Linked DNA regions of Homo sapiens. The gene in region 1 interacts genetically with each later gene. Each region holds a gene or a part of one and is shown on either strand. Other genes may lie near its edges.

What was found.
Region 2: changes in BNIP3 (region 1) and BMF together harm fitness more than expected from each alone (negative genetic interaction), as found in Homo sapiens cells (one large-scale study listed by BioGRID).
Region 3: changes in BNIP3 (region 1) and BCL2L12 together harm fitness more than expected from each alone (negative genetic interaction), as found in Homo sapiens cells (one large-scale study listed by BioGRID).

The regions. Positions count from the first base shown.
Region 1 is NC_000010.11:131,967,065-131,969,596, forward strand, and holds the end of BNIP3 (BCL2/adenovirus E1B 19 kDa protein-interacting protein 3), read right to left. Parts: intron 1,506-2,532; coding exon 1,460-1,505; 3' UTR 620-1,459; downstream 1-619. UniProt on the Homo sapiens protein: Apoptosis-inducing protein that can overcome BCL2 suppression. May play a role in repartitioning calcium between the two major intracellular calcium stores in association with BCL2.
Region 2 is NC_000015.10:40,087,293-40,089,699, forward strand, and holds the end of BMF (bcl-2-modifying factor), read right to left. Parts: 3' UTR 598-2,407; downstream 1-597. UniProt on the Homo sapiens protein: May play a role in apoptosis. Isoform 1 seems to be the main initiator.
Region 3 is NC_000019.10:49,668,775-49,671,678, forward strand, and holds part of BCL2L12 (bcl-2-like protein 12), read left to right. Parts: intron 1-76; coding exon 77-163; intron 164-249; coding exon 250-341; coding exon of another isoform or gene 342-390; intron 391-1,441; coding exon 1,442-1,714; intron 1,715-2,904.

The DNA.
Region 1 (2,532 bases):
GAGACGGGGTTTCATCATGTTGGCCAGGCCAATCTTCTGACTTCAGGTGATCCACCCACCTCAACCTCCCAAAGTGCTGGGATTACAGGCGTGAGCCACTGTGCCCGGCCATACAGGTGGTTTCACTCAGAGTTCAGCCATTGTCATCTGTGAGGGGGACACGTGGTTGGCTTTGTTGTGTGCTAACTTTGATGGTGACCAGGGGGTTCACTGAGCTCTGTAAGGTGCTGAAACTCCACTGATGTTTGTGATGAAAGACAAACAGCAAACATATTTGCTCTAAAACAAAAACGGAATTCCCTTGACCATCGTGCTTCGATGATCTCAGACTATTCTGAAGTTAAATTATATAAAGGAATTCTGATGTCATGCCATCCACATTCTCCAAATGTAAGACTGAGAGATGACTGCTTCCAAGGTAGCATCAACAAAGATTTTTACAAATGAAAACGTTAGATTTAACACCCGAATTAAGCGTGGAAAGGTGAAACATCAAGGCGGCAGGCAGCCTTTCTAAAAAGTTTGCTGTAGGAAAGATAATGTCAAAATAGGGACCAGTCCTGGTTTCATTAAGAAGCTATCATGACGTCTGATTTTAAACCATATGTAAATACAGTAATCTGAAGGATTTGGCAAAGATTTATTTTTTTTTCCATTTCCAGTTTTTTAAAGTAGACACAGATTTGCTTAGAATAAAGCTGATTTTAAAAGCACACAAAAGTTGAACACAAAGGAGAGGATTAAATTCACCAATGCAGAGTGATAAAGAGGAAAAGATACTGAGTAGGTGCCTTCAGCAGAAAACTGATCATCCAGGGTGATCACCTAATAATCGGAGACTTAATTCCTTATAATGCAAAAGCAAGAAGAGTTTAGTGTACGAACTGTACAGCTGAGTTTGTAGCTCTATCTTGGTTTCTGTTGATTATGAACAATTAGCATAGTTATATATAATCTTTCTTTAGTAGACAACCTGCATCCATTTAAATTAAATAATACTTTCTACAATAGTGTGATATATAAGGCCACAATATTTATTTTGGACAAACCCCTTAAAGTAGCGATTTTATTATCAATGTTATTCATTCTTTTGAAATATAAAGTACTTCAGCTGAATTAAGGTTGCAGATAATTTTTAAAATACAACACACATCATGACTAGTATATTAAAATTATTTATATTCAGATATTTATATCTAATATCAAATGAAAATTTACTACCAAATTTTCACAGTAGACATTAATCAGTCTGACATGCTTATTGATCCCATAGGTGTAATTATAGATCAACATGATTTTAGTGTCTATTCTTTTATTTTACTAAATTAGGAACGCAGCATTTACAGAACAAATAAACACAAGTGACGTGGCCACCCCAGGATCTAACAGCTCTTCAGTGAGCTATGTTGCAAGCTCAGAAGTAATCCACTAACGAACCAAGTCAGACTCCAGTTCTTCATCAAAAGGTGCTGGTGGAGGTTGTCAGACGCCTTCCAATATAGATCCTTCACAGAAAAATTATCAGTAGTTAATGTATCTTGTGATTCACAGGAGACTGTGTTACAGCTGAAACAGGGTAGCTCACTGTGGTTAGAGCTTATGCAAGGGGACTGGTGATTTTATACCCATTATAAAAATTTTGTAATGAATCTATCTGTGATCTTTTATCTAGTGTTTTATCAATATGTATTTTGTATTAATTAACTTAGAAAACATCAGATCGTATTCTTACATAGAAGGATCACCAAACCGAATGCTGTTTCCACACAGAAAGCTTCTGCTTTGTTCCAACTCAGTGCTGGGGGAAGTCACCTACCAGGGCAAGATGGTGTTGCTAGTTCATCACCACCAGCCTCACCAAAGCCAACTGCTTAAAAATGAAGCCCCTGCCCTCATGTGGTTTAAGTTTGGTAGTGGGAGAGATGTCCCAAACTAAAGATGCAGGAGTGTCAGAAAAGGCTTTTCGGCAATAGAGAGGCTCGCTCCAGCTGACCAGCGGGCATCACTCCCGGAGGGAGGAGGATGGGTCTCCAGGAAAGGGCAGAATCGGAAGCCTGGCTGGCCTGGCCTGTGGGCGGTGGTGTGGTGGGCACTGTGAGCGCAGACAGTGCTGCAGCAGCTTTCGGGGCAGATTTTATCGTGTGGTTCTGAAAAGCAGCTGAGGGGGTGTGGGTCGCCAGTGGCAGCATCAGGCTCTGAAAACCCGGGCAGGACGAAGGACAGTAGCTGGGAAGTAGTGGCTGCAGAAATCCATCCTGAAACGAAGGGCTTAAACCTTGTATTTAAAATGAGGATCCCGAGGCCTTGCCCCCAGAGTCTGCTTGACAGTTCTGGAAAAGGCTCCAGAAAGCAAACTGCCTGGTGATGCTGATGCAGTCTGTAGGTCTGACTCCCAAAAGCACCAGCAGAAATGAAGGTGACGGGTTATGGGGGGGACGTGAGAATGTGCCCAAGAGCTAGGAGAAAGCCACGCACACGGGAGGGCGAGGTGGAGACACGGGCAGCGCTCAGGTCCCGGCCCAGGAAACTCAG
Region 2 (2,407 bases), on another chromosome or scaffold:
TTCATAACTTACTGCTGATAGGATCAGGAGTAGTTTTTCCCAAGGATTTTCAGAACTCTGTCAAGAGCTTTAAATCACCGCTTTGAATCAGACACATTGTTAATCCACAAAGAAATGCAAGCCAGGAAGTCCCCCTACAACTAGCTTGCCTCCTGAGGGGCTACCCTGATAGAAAGGAGGGGTGGGGTAGTGTGTGCGGGAGGGGCTGCCGGGGTCCTTTCCCTCACTGGGTCCCAGTGGCAGACAGGCCCTTTTGACACATTCCCTTTAATCCTGCAAGGCCGGCACAGTCGTATTTCACACGTGGAAGAACTGAAGGCTCAGAGAGGTGACATAACTTGCCCAAGATCATTCAGCTGGAGGAGGAGGGAACCGGGTCCAAAACCTGCATCTTTCCCCCTCACAGGGCCTCTGCTGTGCTGCCTATCGCGTGGTGGTCGGAATCACTCTTCTCAACTCCAAGAGGGGAAAGGAAATCACGGCGAAAGCTGAGCGCCTTCAGGTCACTCAAGCTGGCAGCTGAGAAAGCTAGAAGGCTTTAATTTCCTAACTGATCTCCTTGCATTTTTACCACACCTTGAAAAATAAAAGACCAGATTTGCTTTAAATGATTTTATTAAAAATTGTACCAATTGATGGGGGGAAAGATATACACACATACACACATATGCATGTGAAGAACATAAACACATAAAGCCAAAGGCTCTGTACAGTTTTTTAAAAAATGGGGCCCCTTTCTTCTTCCTCTCTCCCAGAGGCAGAGTGCCCAGACCCCAGGGCAGCTACCCTGGGGATGAACAAAATGCTACATTCTCACTGGGTCTCCTCGATAGCCCCTGTGGATCCAGGGATGGGGTAGAAGGCTAGCAATGCTCCCAGAGCAGGGAGGGGCACTGGCCACCTGCACAGAGAGAGGGGGCAGTGGGGCTCTGAGCACCTTTAGCTGGGAGGCTGGCTGGGCACCTATGAGCTCAGCTTTTTCCGCTATCCCCTCAAGACTCAAAAGTCCCCACCAGCCCTCAGGCTGCCTAAGGGTGACAGGTGAGCCCCTTCCTGCTAGGGTGTCTGGCCAGGATGGCCTGCTTCCAAGAGTCCTCACCTTCACACACAGAGCTGTTTCCAGCCCAGGCCAGCACTGATTTGCAGAAGGCCTGCAGAGCCATGGTGACCAAAGTCTTCCCGCTTCTGCCACGTCCCTTCTGCCTACCCCACCTCCCCATCAAGTCCCTCAAAAAGAAGTGCTCACTGGGGTAGCATGCTCCTTGCTGTCCAGGACAGTCACCGTGGCTCCACAGCACTCTTCCTGGGAGGCCCTGGCTGAACCATCCCGAATAACCCCCAGGCAGGGGCCACCTGCCGATGGGGCTGGGCTGCCAGGAGCAGTGAGACAGGTCAGCTGGGCCCCTCTGGGTCCTTCAAACAAGCCTGCCACATAGCTTTGGACACAGACCTACTCCCCTGGGGGCTGAGGGAGGTCACTGGGAGGTGATCTTTTTCCACCTCGGATTGAGCAAGAGAAGGCTGCCAGTGGCCCAGACTTTGAAACAGGCCAGGCAGAGGCCAGGCTGAGTCCTCCACCCTCATTGCAGGAGTCCAGCGTCTGGCCTGGGGACTTCCCTCACCAGATCTGTTGACCAACTTCTAGAAACCCCTGCTTTGGGGTTGTGAATTAGAAGGGCTGTTTTGACCCTGAATATCAGGCTTCCCTTCCTCCCAGGCATTTCTTTCCCGAGGAGGAAGGTTTCCAGTCCCTCTCCCAACCCCCACCCTCAGCAAGCCACAAAGCCTCCACCGTCTTCAGCTGGTTACAGGTCAGGATCCAGGTCAGACTCTCCCTCCCTCTAAATCTGATTCTCCACCCCTCGCTAGAGACAGCCAGGCTCCTGGGGGTGGGGGATGGAGTCTGAGGGGGTGGAGGTCGGGGGGGAGGGGCAGGTCTCCTGAGGCTAGACTTGAGGAATGTTTAGGCCAACTCACCAGGCAGAGGAGGAAGGGGCCAGTTTAGATCACTAAGCCAATTAAAAACAACCAGCCAGAAAGAACCTTTCTCCTTCCTGACAGCTACTCTGCCAGCTACCTCCTGGGTTTTGTTGGTGGGGAAGAAGGGAGAGGGAAACGTGAGGGGTGTAAATTTTGCCCTGGCTCACTTAAGACAGTGAGTGAGTTCCTGGCTTTGCATAAGATGGAGACAGTGCAGTCAGACCACCTTCCACCTGCCCCAGGCTTGATGTTGAGGTGGGTTTGTCAAAGTCTGGGCTCAGTTCTCAGGCCACAGGGCACCCAGCCTGGGCCTGGCAAGGTCTCTGAAGCTGATGGCCTTGCCCCAGCACCAAGATCTAAATCATTTTCTCTCTCACTGAACTCAGGTGGAGAGTCTGCCAAAAGGGGTGAATAGTGGCTGCTGTAA
Region 3 (2,904 bases), on another chromosome or scaffold:
AAGGTAGTTGGGGGAAGGAGAGAATCCGTAAGTTTCCAATGTCCTGGAAACCTGTCATTAACTCTTTTCACCCCAGGCCCAGCTACTCCAGACTTCTATGCTTTGGTGGCCCAGCGGCTGGAACAGCTGGTCCAAGAGCAGCTGAAATCTCCGCCCAGCCCAGGTGAGGCACAGAGGAGCCCCAGAGAAGGATGGCGGTGGGAGGATAGTCAGGGTTCTGCCCCCAGCCAAATTCTCTTCTGCCTCCAGAATTACAGGGTCCCCCATCGACAGAGAAGGAAGCCATACTGCGGAGGCTGGTGGCCCTGCTGGAGGAGGAGGCAGAAGTCATTAACCAGAAGGTGATGGGCATCTGTCCCACTCCTTGGCAAGGACAGGAGTTGCGGAATGGTGGGGCACTGGGATCAGAAGCTGGATCTGTATTTTCTTTGGATGGTCAGGTGGAAAGAGGCTGGGACAAGGTTTCAATGAAGGGTTGAGGCCGGGTGTGGTGGCTCACGCCTGTAATCCCAGCACTTTGGGAGGCCGAGTTGGGTGGATGACTTGAGGTCAGGAGTTCGAGACCAGCCTGGCCAACATGGTGAAACCCCATCTCTACTAAAAATACAAAAATCGGACAGGTGTGGTGGTGCGCTTCTGTAATCCCAGCTACTCAGAAGGCTGAGGCAGGAGAATCGCTTGAGCCCAGGAGGTGGAGGTTGCAGTGAGCCAAGATTGCGCCACTGCACTCCAGCCTGGGTGACAGAGTGAGACTCTGTCTTTAAAAAAAAAAAAAAAAAAGAATAGTTGAATGACAGGGGTATGGTTAGGGTAGTACTGTACCGTAAATTAGTTGTTTTAATTGATTGTTTAGAGGGGCATGGCCTAAATGCAGAGGGTGTGGCCATCAGAAACATTATCCACAAGAGACTGGCCAAGCTGGGGAAGTAAGTGAATGAATGTGGGGGTGGGGGGAGTGGCTAAAATCTTACTGAGCATAGAAGGGACCTGGCTTAGAATGTAGGGGAAAATGTACTACCAGAGGAGGTGTGGCTTGTGGCTGTGTCCTGGAATCTGATTGGCTTCGGAGCTTGGACAAGGTACATCGTCCTTTAATATTAATTGAATGGTAGAGGGCAAGATTGTTGTAGACACTAGGTTGGCCCCTGGGAAAGGTCACCAGGGGCATGGCTAGATTAACTCAGTTACAGTAGAGATTGGCCCTGATTGGCTGTTGAGGCAAGGGCCTGGCATGGCTTAGGGACTCACGTTCCAGGCCACTATCCCGGGGGTAGTTTGGCAGAGACCCTGGAGTCTGGCTTGATTGGCTAATATGGATGAGGGGTGGCCTAGAACCTTAGCATCTAGAACGATCCTGAACCGGGAAGCCACGCCTCCCGGCCCTCTATTGGCTGGCCCCGGGGGCGCTGCTGACGCGGACCCTGCCTCTTCCACCCTACAGCTGGCCTCGGACCCCGCCCTGCGCAGCAAGCTGGTCCGCCTGTCCTCCGACTCTTTCGCCCGCCTGGTGGAGCTGTTCTGTAGCCGGGATGACAGCTCTCGCCCAAGCCGAGCATGCCCCGGGCCCCCGCCTCCTTCCCCGGAGCCCCTGGCCCGCCTGGCCCTAGCCATGGAGCTGAGCCGGCGCGTGGCCGGGCTGGGGGGCACCCTGGCCGGACTCAGCGTGGAGCACGTGCACAGCTTCACGCCCTGGATCCAGGCCCACGGGGGCTGGGTGAGCCGCTGAAGCCTCTCTCTCCGGGCCTCACTTTACCTAACTGTCATGTGATAGAGGAGGGGCGGGGACTTCTTAGGTTCCTCTCAGACCTCAGGTATTCTCCCAGCTCCACTGCGTTCGTTCTGTTGAGCCCTTGCTGTATGCCAGGACTGCAGCGATGAGTGCAGACACTATGCCTGGCGTCAACGACTGGGTACGCTAATACTGTGAGCGTGAAACCAGTGACTGAGGTTACTCAGGGAGAGGCCGGACGGGGTAGCTCATGCCTGTAATCCCAGCACTTTTGGAGGCCAAGGCAGGAGAATTATTTGAGGCCAGGAGTTCAAGACCAGCCTGGACAACATAGTAAGACCCCATCTCTACAAAAATTGAAAATAACTAGCCAGGGTCGGGTGCGGTGGCTCACACCTGTAATCCCAGCACTTTGGGAGGCCGAGGCAGGTGGATCACCTGAGGTCAGGAGTTTGAGACCAGCTGGCCAACGTGGTGAAACCCTGTGTCTACTAAAAAAAATACATAAATTAGCCGGGCGCGGTGGCAGGTGCCTGTAATCCCAGCTACCGAGGAGACTGAGGCATGAGAATCGCTTGAACCTGGGAGGCAGAGATTGCAGTGAGCTGAGATCATGCCACTGCACTCCAGCCTGGGCGACAGAGTGAGACTGTGTCTCAACAAAATAATATAATAAAAACCTGGTGCGGTGGCTCACACCTGTAATCCCAGCACTTTGGGAGACTGAGGTGGGTGGATCACTTGAGGTCAGGAGTTTGAGACCAGCCTGACCATGGTGACATTCAGTCTCTACTAAAAATACAAAATTAGCCCGGCATGCCTGTAATCCCAGCTAGGGAGGCTGAGGCAAGAGAATTGCTTGAACCTGGGAGGCAGAGGTTGTAGTGAGCCGAGATTGCACCACTGCACTCCAGCCTGGGCAACAAGAGCGGGGCTCTGTCTCAAAAAATAAATAAATAAAAATTTTTAAAATTAATAATAATTAGCAAAGCATGGTAGCTCACACGTTTACTCCCAGCTACTCAGGAGGCAGAGGAGCCGGGAGGATCACTTGAGCCCAGGAGTTCAAGGCTGTGGTGAGCTATGATTGCGCCACTGTACTCCAGTGTGGGTGACAGAGTGGGACCCTGTCTCAAAAAATAAAATAGTGAGAGTAGTAGTGCTACCTCAAAGGG